Regions from separate parts of the Homo sapiens genome. Here regions 1 and 2 are each reported to be linked to region 3. Evidence: microRNA targets listed by miRTarBase, many of them from high-throughput screens and not tested one by one. Region 3 holds a microRNA gene; each other region holds the end of a gene's coding sequence.
Evidence for each region. The annotated mature microRNA hsa-miR-193b-3p reads AACUGGCCCUCAAAGUCCCGCU and lies in region 3 at 2,378-2,399, opposite strand. An mRNA with a match to its seed (bases 2 to 7 or 8) in the 3' UTR can be bound and repressed. Matches are read on the target gene's strand: a 7mer-m8 pairs with bases 2 to 8, a 7mer-A1 pairs with bases 2 to 7 and ends in A, and an 8mer does both.

Region 1 (3,000 bases), not on the chromosome of region 3:
AAGACTCTTTTGCTCATTTACAACTCAGTGGAGACAACACAGCTGAAAGGAGTCATAGGGGAGAAGGAGAAGAAGATCATGAATCACCATCTTCAGGCAGGGTACCAGCACCAGACACCTCCATTGAAGAAACTGAATCAGATGCCAGTAGTGATAGTGAGGATGTATCTGCAGTTGTTGCACAGCACTCCTTGACCCAACAGAGACTTTTGGTTTCTAATGCAAACCAGACAGTACCCGATCGATCAGATCGATCGGGAACTGATCGATCAGTAGCAGGGGGTGGAACAGTGAGTGTCAGTGTCAGATCTAGAAGGCCTGATGGACAGTGCACAGTAACTGAAGTTTAAATAAAAATGTCTTCAGCTCCATGCTCAAGGTTGAAAGGGTTACCTGTAAATTTCTGCCCACATAACATTATACTCATCCCTAGTAGTGCATTTTGGGAGTTGGGGTGGGAAGGGGTATGGGAAGGATAGACTCATAATTAAAATGTCTAACATGTCTCTGTTGAGAAATTTATTTAATGTAAGGAACTTGGGTGTTAATAGTTGAGAGCTGTTTAGTAATAACCCAGTTTTCTTGAGGTCTGTTTACTTTATACTTTTTAAAAACTTCTGTAGTTCTTTTGGCCAGTGTGTTTGTATTATCTGTGCATTAATGGTCCTCATCTGACTCCTGCATTGTGTCTTATTTTTCTGCATGGATTGGCATAAGACCATTACTAAAATTTGGCACCTGTGAGATGTTTGATATTATGAACAGGAAACATAATTTAATGTATGAATAGATGTGAATTTGGGATTTCAAAATAGATGAATAACAACTATTTTATAGTAAAGTTATTGAAATGGAAATGAAAACAGCCAGTAACTTATGTTTCAGAATGTTTGTAACACACTTCATGGTGTTCCCATAGGCTTTGCTGTCTAGTCTTATAGTTTGAGGTTTTTTTGGTCTGCATTTTTCTTTTTGATTACAAAATTTATAATTTAATAAATACTAGAGTTTATCAAAAACAGTTTGTCTCTTGTTTGAGGGTGGAAAGGGTGTGGAAACATTTTGACATTTGTGACCAAAGGTCACTTAAAAAGTGGTGGTTTTAATTGGTTGTTTTCAGCTTAATCACCTGCTCAGAAAAGTTTGATTTTTTTCTTAGAGATTATTTAAACAGAATCTATAGGCAGTGTGTATATAATAAACATGTATGGAAATAAAACTAAAGCCTGTGAGACTTAAAATTCCTCAAATAGCATATACCGTTAATATTTTATATTTTCCTTACCATATTCATTAGTAGTCTAACACTCTGGATTAAATGGCAGACTTAACGGTGTTAGCAGACATGAATTCACTTTACACAAAATGTTGTAGACCACAAAATCCACTTTTATTTGGTAGTTTTTACATCTATGGCCAAATAGTATTGGGTTGACACAGTAATCTAGAGTTTACCTCTGAAAAAAAGTAATGTGAGTCTGTCTAACCATATTTTCCTAACTCAACAGTAGGATCATGATGGTAAGGCAAATGCAAGTTATTTTTACCATGATTCTCAAATGTGAATTGAATGTTACAGTAGCAAATACTTTTGACCTCTTGTGATGAGTCAGAACTAGAACTTAATTCTTTGACTTTCACATTTTTTAAAAAGTGTATTGCTGGGATCATAAACATTTTATGTTGTGCATTTTTATTACATTTACTTTTGAAAGATAGTTGTTAGAAGGTTAGTTGTTTTTCAGGAAAAAAAAGAAATCTGATGTAAAAATGCAAATTTATGTTGCAGGATGCTTCATGAGTCCCTTCAAGTGGTTTAAAACTACATCAACAGTAGTTGTTTATTACTAGTTGGAAATTCCAGGGCACACAAATGAATGTCCAATTGTAGAATCAGTTGACTTTCCATGTCATGGCTACCACTGTTTAGTAGGTAATTTACAATAGAAAACTAATTATTGAAAAGAACAAAGTTCCAAATTTGTAGTGGGTAGTGAGGTACATCTTTTTTTAAATGAAGGGCCATTTCCCATGAATTTTACTCCAGCTGTTTGGAGCAGAAGAAAATGATTGATCATACCCTTTCTTGTTTTCTTGTTCCCTGATACCTCCCCACTTTTGTTCTTTAGCAGCAACACTCAGTTATTTTGGTAAATTATTTCCAGGTAAAACAGAACAAAAATTGTATGAAAAGTAACGCCAGGAATAGGTTTTGTATAGAAGCTCTCCTTTTAAACACTGCTCTTTGGTTATAAGCTAAGAATTATTATTGGAATTGACAGCAATAATTTTTAAGCCAAAAGTGTATATTTTAGCTAAATGTTCCAGATTACGCAGTAAATACCCAAGTGAGTAATTGGCAAGAAATGAGGTAAATGAGTTCAGATATTCAAATGATTAAAAGTAAGTCTGCATATTAATAGTAGCCTTCAAAGTAATTCTGATGTTCATATTTAATATCATTTAACATTTATACATATTAGTCACTGGAGCTTTACTTGGAGTACATCCACACGAAAAACCAATTATTTATTAAATTTTCCTTTCTTAGCAATAGCCTCTAAATTTGCAGGCCCACCCCAAACTGTTCCTAAAAGATCTCTTTCGTTCTGTAATGCTTCCTCCAAATATAGCTCTCTGCCTGAACAAACAGATTTTTTCAAAGCTCTAATTACTTCCGGTGGCCCTTGGATGAATTGCTTTAGCCATTCTTGTGCCTCTTCTAGAGATTTAGTTTCATCTGAAGACTGCAAGACCTCTTCAACCATTCCTATGTTTAGAGCATTTTTTGAATCCAGTTTAAGGGCCCCACTCAACACTTTGAGAGCTTGTCTACTTCCGATTATTTCAACTAGCCGGGTGGTGCCACCCCAGCTTGGTATTATGCCCATCTCTTTGTGGACGAATCTGATCTTACTCTCTGGAGTCATTAACCTGTAAAAGAAAAAAGAAAAGCTTAATTGTAACTCTCTCTGTATGCTCTAATCATAAAGTACTATC
Region 2 (3,353 bases), not on the chromosome of region 3:
GGCACACACCTGTAATCCCAGCTATTTGGGAGGCTGAGGCAGGAGAATCGCTTGAACCTGGAGGTGGAGGTTGCAGTGAGCCAAGATCGCGCCACTGCAGTCCAGCCTGGGCGACAGACAGCAAGACTCTGTCTCAAAAAAAAAAAAGAAAAAAAATTCAGGAATATAAATATCGGCCTTAGAAAGGGATATCAAGCGATAGTTCAGGCTTACTGCTTCTACTGTTATAATCTCGTTTCCTTTTCATCTTGAAAACTCTCGTTTTGTACAAGCCAGATTCCAGTTATTTTTCTCATGCAGGTAGTGACAGCATATTGAAGTAGTAAACTGGCCCTTCGTTAGAGGCATTCGAGCCTCCTTTTCCCTTTGTCCGATTGGACCAGTCATTCAGCCCCTCATTCCCTGCCCACTTGACCAGCCCTTGTGCCTCCCTCTTCCAGGAGGAATTCTAAGGAAAGGTGCAAAGCTGTTCTTCCGCCGGCGGCATCAACAGAAAGACCCAGGCATGAGTCAGTCACACAATGACCTTGTGTTCCTGGAGCAGCCAGAGGGTTCCCGGAGGAAAGGCATCACCCTCACCAGGATCCTGAACAAGAAGCTGCTCTCCAGGCACAGAAACAAGAACACCATGAACGGTGCCCCCGTGGAGCCCTGCACGTAGGGCCTGAGGTCATCACCTCCAAGCCAGAAGACGTGCACCCATGTTAACTACCCTCACCAGGACGCAGCCAGTGTGTCCGCCGGATGTCCAGATGCCCCGCTTGTCTTGCTGGGTTTCTTCCAACCATCTCGTCATTTAAAGGGAAAACAAAATCTGAGTCTCCAGCCAGGAGGCTTCTCCCAGAGAGGACAAAAAAGCCCAACTTGCCACCAGATGCTAAATGAGACTTGACAGCTGCAGAGCTTGGGCTGTGCTCATAGCTAAGGGTTAGGGTTCAATATTAGAAGGAGATTAACATTATAAGTGAAATAATATGCTCTAATAGATTGTGGAGGGCAGGTTTGAGGGACTTAGTTTACCTATTCTACACTAACAAGTGTTGTTTTGGGTCCATGCCTGGACCATGTCACAAAAAGGAGGTGCCCCCCTGTGCTGTCACTGTGAATGGAAAGGATGGGTCACCTCTCTTCATCTGCTGCTTGGAATAAAAAATGCAGCTGGCCCTGAGTACAGGGAAGTGGAACATAGGCAGGATTTTGGATTAATAGAGAAATTTTGATAAGAATGGAGACGCTACGACAGATGTAGGAAGTCATCTACCTTTGATATTAGCCATAGAACTTGAACACTAACTATATCCTATGCATAGTATGCAGAACACTTTTCTAAGTTTACTTTGAGCCTACTTGCAAGTGGAAGATATATATATTCTCACATGGTTTTTACATTTTTCTCTATCGTGTTAAAAGCTCTAATAATGCTAGTGGAGCAGTTGACATCCAGGGTTTTTTTTCCTGCCTGTCATACTTGCTAAACAAGAGCACAGCGGGCCTGTCAGATGAAGTCAGGAGCCATACGTGACCGCTCGTAGAACACAGTAACCAAACACATACATGGATTTTGCCAAGTGCTGCCAGTAGCCAAAACAAAGTCTTTTTAGGGCAATAGAGGAAATTATTTTGTGTCTCAGGTGTCAGTCTTAGGAATGGAAGTTTAATAACAAATGGGCCAAACTCGCAGGACATTCCTTCTATGAGCGCTTCAGAATTTTGCTGTGAACAGTCCTCTTGGACACAGGTTGGGGTGCCCTTGTTTGGGTTTGTTTTGGTGGAAAACATCACAAACCTGGCACACCATTTGAATATCCCTAATATCATTCCAGTCGCTTTCCTCATCAGTTGCCTTTCTATTTCAGTTCATTCACAGATCTCACTTCTGAATGTGCCACTTCCAGTAGACATGCTGGTCAAAGAGCAGTCATCATTGGGGTGAAGTGTTCTTGACAGTTTAATATGATTCACTTTTCTCCAAAGACATGTAAAAGGCTGTTACGAAAGCTTGGCTTCTGTCATGGAGACGGAAATGGGCAAGCTTCCTTCCGTAGCCTCTTGTTAATCCTTAAACATTAAATATTTCGGGGGTAATAGAGCCACTGGTGAGTAAAAACCTATATAAAAACCAAAATTATAGGATTTTTTCTTTTTTAGTAAAAACCGGTATCAAAACCAAAATTATAGGATTTTTTTCTTTTTTAGTAAAAACCTATATAAAAACCAAAATTATAGGATTTTTTCTTTTTTAGTAAAAACCTATATGAAAACCAAAATTATAGGATTTTTTTCTTTTTTAGTAAAAACCTGTATAAAAACCAAAATTATAGGATTTTTTTTTCTTCTTTTTTAGAGAGAGAGATTAGAAAACGACATTAGGAATTTCACTTTAAAATGCGCATTACAAACTTCTTAGGTGTTCCAGGAATTATCAAGTGACTTTAAAATGACTTTTCCAACCTGCTTTGTTTTTAAAAATTATATTCCAGTTTTAATCATTGTAAAAAAAGCACCTGGAGTTTCAAAACATGTGAATACTACCAAGTTTCTGTCCCCAAAGTCAGGCATCACTGTTAGTCTTTTGGGACAGATGGGACAGATGTTCACTTTAATGTTTTACTTGAAGTTTTACTGCTCTTTGCCATGTGGTAAAAAGAGGCTGAGACATATTTAAGAATTCCAAGAGGATATTATGTGTCAGAATTTCAGACACTGATGAGAAGTTTTTAATTGTTCTTTTTTATTTGATTTTGGAATTCAGGTGCACTCTATTCAAGTGCAAGGATATCAGAAGTTTTTTTTTATTTAAAAAATTTTTTTTTCGAGATGGAGTTTCACTCTGTTGCCCAGGCTGGAGTGCAATGGCAGCTTACTGCAACCTCCACCTCCTGGTTCAAGCGATTCTCCTGCCTCAGCCTCCCAAGTAGCTGGGATTACAGGCACGCGCCACCACACCTGGCTAATTCTATTTAGTAGAAATGGAGTCTCACCATGTTGGTCAGGCTGGTCTCGAACTCCTGACCTCAGGTGATCCACCCACCTTGGCCTCCCAGCGTGCTGGGATTATAGGCATGAGCCACCAGGCCGGCCCCAGGATTTTATATTAAGCCTTCTTGCTCTCAAAAAAAAAAAAAGGTTTTAACTATTCCATTTCCAGATGAATCCCATGAGCGCTGCTTACTGTTGAATACCAAGGTCTAGGGCTCTGCTTCCTGTAGACACGCACACGTTGTCTCCATCCAATGGCCTTTTCTGAAGTTACAGAAAACACCAACATGGGAGGGAGTTTATGAAGCAAAGGCAAAGGCAACACGTCGGCTAGCTTCAGGGTAGCACCGTGAGAAATGGGCTGTATTGATACT
Region 3 (3,353 bases):
CTGGTGAGTGATTTTAAGTACCAAGTTTGCCTTAACTTTTCACTGCACTCATTTTTATCCTCATGGCTAAAATAGCTGTATTTGCTCCACAATCAAAATTAAAGGAGGGTGAGCTGATCGTTAGGAGGCTATAGTTGATCTGGCAAGAATTTCCATCTTTCTGTTCATAACGTTAAGTTGGGGGGTTGCTGGGAAGGGAAACAGAGAGAGTGTTCCCTTGGAGGGACTTTTCCAACTTTCATTGGTTTGAATCACCAACATATATTTTATTTTTAAGGAAGTATCATATTCATTGCAGAACCACCTCTAAATATTTTACTCCTGGCCATACCGTATTCTTTTCTATTGAAACATCTTTTTTGCCTCTCTGAGATCAGCTATGGCTTGGGGATTGCTAAGAACAAAATTCAAAGTTGCTTGTTTTTTGTTTTTTTTTTTCTTAAATCCACACTTCTTTGGGGGTTAGCGGGGGTGGGGAGGGAACAGCAACTGCTTAATGAAGTTTCTCACACAGAGGCAAAAAGAGAAAAGCCAAAATATATTCAGTGTATCCAGCAGTTCCATGCTGAATTTTTTTTTTCCTTATTGGTTGAGGGGGGTGTGTAGGAGGGTGGTGGGAAGGATCTGAAAAGAAGCTGTGATTCTTTGCTGAATTAATGATGACTTCTCACTGCAAAATGCTGATTTATAATCTCTTCACCATACTAGACTGTTTCCAGACTCAGAGGGGGGTTAAAGTTTGTTAAATGTATTCATAATTACATGCACAGTTTCAGACGGCTGAATATAAGTAATGCTTGTGCTGTTGCGAATGCTCACCATTAAAGCAGAAATTGTTTCACATTTAGCACTAAATTCTGTCTGATTTTGCACACTTAACAATTCAGTAATTTTAACATTCGGCTTCGTCGCCTCCATTATAGCTCAGTATCTTGGAGAAACAGTCAGTGTTCCGGCCTCGTTAATTCATGTAAAACACCCTATTTGTAGAAGTATCATTAAAGGCTAATTTGATGAGATATCCTTATTTAGCAAAGCAAATAGGATTTGACAGTCAGCTCCGGGTGGCGATTTAGCAAAGCACAAACACAATTCACAACGTGACAATTTCCCATCCACGCGCCTCGCTGGAATTGTGGACTCCTGAAAATTGTGCTGTTTCATCGTGTCCCATACTAAAGAGAAAGAACTCTGGAAGTAAAGAACTGTTTTTGCCAAGGCAGCACAAATGTCATCTGTGTGTACATGTGCCATGTCTTTCAAATCCTAAATCTTGTATCAAGAACGCTGTGTTCAAAGGTTTTTTCCAGGTACAGCTCACTTTTCTATTCCCTGCTATGTAGACTTAATTTAAATCTAGACTTGCAAATAACTTAGGATGTGTGAAAGTCTATATAGGTTACAACTATATAGGGTGTGTGTGTGTGTGTGTGTACACACAACTGAAGGTTAATGTTCTGCGACGGGGATTTATACACACTACCCTTGCTTTAGAGACTTCCCCTGAACGTATTATCCAGCCTTCTATAAAACGCCTGGCTGGGTGCAGTGGCTCATGCCTGTAATCCCAGCACTTTGGGAGGCTGAGGTGGGCGGATCACGAGGTCAGGAGATCGAGACCATCCTGGCTAACACGGTGAAACCCCGTCTCTACTAAAAATACAAAAAAATTAGCCGGGCGTGGTGGCGGGCGCCTGTAATCCCAGCTACTCGGGAGGCTGAGGCAGGAGAATCGCCTGAACCCGGGAAGCAGAGGTTGCAGTGAGCCAAGATCGCGCCACTGCACTCCAGCCTGGTCAGAGCCTGGACAGAGCGAGATTCTGTCCCCAAAAAACAAACAAACAAACAAACAAAACAAAACAGAACAAAAAGAACGCCTTCAACAGCAAAGAGTTGCAAAGAAATGTTGCAATTCCAGGTGGAAGCAAACAGCTGGTTTCTCCTAATTTAGCAAACGTAAAGACAAATCTAATGTCGTTACAATTCATCATTTCAGGAGCGCCTTATTTGGGGGCTTCAAACACTTTGCCACAATTGACATCCTACTAATTCCTTTCCAATCCAATACTGTCCCTTAAACCACTGTGGGGGTGGTCAGGGGGAATGTACTTTCTCCTCCTTGTATCGTTTTTCGGCCTCCCAAGGAGAGAAGCCCTTGGAAAACACAGTAGGTTCGGCAAACTGAGAACACACACTTATAAGAATACCGCCCTCGAAGGGACCTTTTAGTTTTATGGAAAGTAGCAAACCTCCCCCTCTTTCCCCGCCCCCCCGCCAGCCGGGTTTTGGACGCGCTCCCTGGGGGTGGTAGCTCTCTGCCCTCACCCTCCCGAGACTGCCGGGGCCTGAGTCCCTCGCTGTCCAGAATGACCCCAAAAGCGGGACTTTGAGGGCCAGTTGGATAAAACATAAACTCATCTCGCCCTCAAAACCCCGATTCTGAGACCACAGCCTCCAAAAGCCTCTTTTCCCAAGAAGTGAGTCCCCATTCACGGCTGACAGCACCGGGGCAGGCCGCCTTTGAGGCAAGAGTTTGGAGAACCGGGATCACTGAAGGAATCGTTACTGGGTGTTCCCTCAGGGCGGCGGTTCATCTCACCAAAATGCCAGGGGGTCGCTGTGGGAGGAGGGGACATTTGCCACACCATGGCTGAGGGCAAGAGGATCGCTTGATCCCGGGGTGTCTCTTCCCTCCCGGAGCAATCACCAATCTCGCCCAGCAAACAGGCCTAAAAGCTTCCCGGACAACACGAGGGGTGCCCCAAACGTCCCTTAGCAGCGGATAAATCGGGTGTCCGAGGTGCCTCGTACAGTTCCCCCCACCCCATCTCCAGCTAAATAAAGTTTGGTTATTTGTGTCCTTAATCGTCTCTCATTAAAGTCAAATTTGCTGCGCGCCCAAGTTGGGGGAAATGATTTCCATTTTAATAGCTTAATTAGCCTCTAGGTTCTGGAAAGGCCACTCCCCCACGCACCTTTTCTCCTCATTTTAACCCCCCTCCCTTTTTCACAACTTCTCCTAAAAATAAATTATAAATATGGATGTGTCCTCAGAGGACATAAGCGGCGCATTCCAACGCTCCGCTTGGTGGGGATTGGAAGCAAAGAGAAACCAGAAACGCCACTCCCCCCACCCCCAAATCAAAATGCCTTTTTCTTTTTTTTTCTAACTTCTTTTTCCTAACTTGGTGTTGTCTCGGGCACAGACACCCCGCTCCGCACCCCGGAACCTAGTTTTTTTGCCCCCGTCCTGCAGAAGCTAAAGCCAACGCGCCAGGGCTGCCTGCTTCTCGGGGGGAGGGAGCTGACAACTTTAGGGGGCGGCGGTAACTCTCTGGGGACGGTGGTTCCCG

Region 1: the mRNA of RNF146 is a reported target of hsa-miR-193b-3p. Seed matches in the 3' UTR shown: 7mer-m8 at 631-637 and 7mer-A1 at 866-872.
Region 2: the mRNA of C2CD2 is a reported target of hsa-miR-193b-3p. Seed matches in the 3' UTR shown: 7mer-A1 at 1,574-1,580.

What each region holds. Positions count from the first base shown.
Region 1 is chr6:127,287,344-127,290,343 of GRCh38, forward strand. It overlaps RNF146 (ring finger protein 146), which reads left to right. Exons shown (of 3, transcript NM_001242850.2): 3 at 1-1,219. The coding sequence ends at 350. ECHDC1 (ethylmalonyl-CoA decarboxylase 1) reads right to left here. Exons shown (of 6, transcript NM_001002030.2): 6 at 1,369-2,934. The coding sequence ends at 2,526. Among named protein-coding and RNA genes, the nearest start is that of RNF146, 22 kb to the left of the region's middle.
Region 2 is chr21:41,886,432-41,889,784 of GRCh38, reverse strand. C2CD2 (C2 calcium dependent domain containing 2) reads left to right here. Exons shown (of 14, transcript NM_015500.2): 14 at 441-3,353. The coding sequence ends at 661. Among named protein-coding and RNA genes, the nearest start is that of PRDM15, 8.8 kb to the right of the region's middle.
Region 3 is chr16:14,303,063-14,306,415 of GRCh38, reverse strand. MIR193B (microRNA 193b) reads right to left here and starts at 2,449; the gene lies at 2,367-2,449. The region is part of intron 1 of MIR193BHG (MIR193b-365a host gene); the gene reads right to left. RefSeq lists silencers at 2,309-2,358, 3,312-3,353.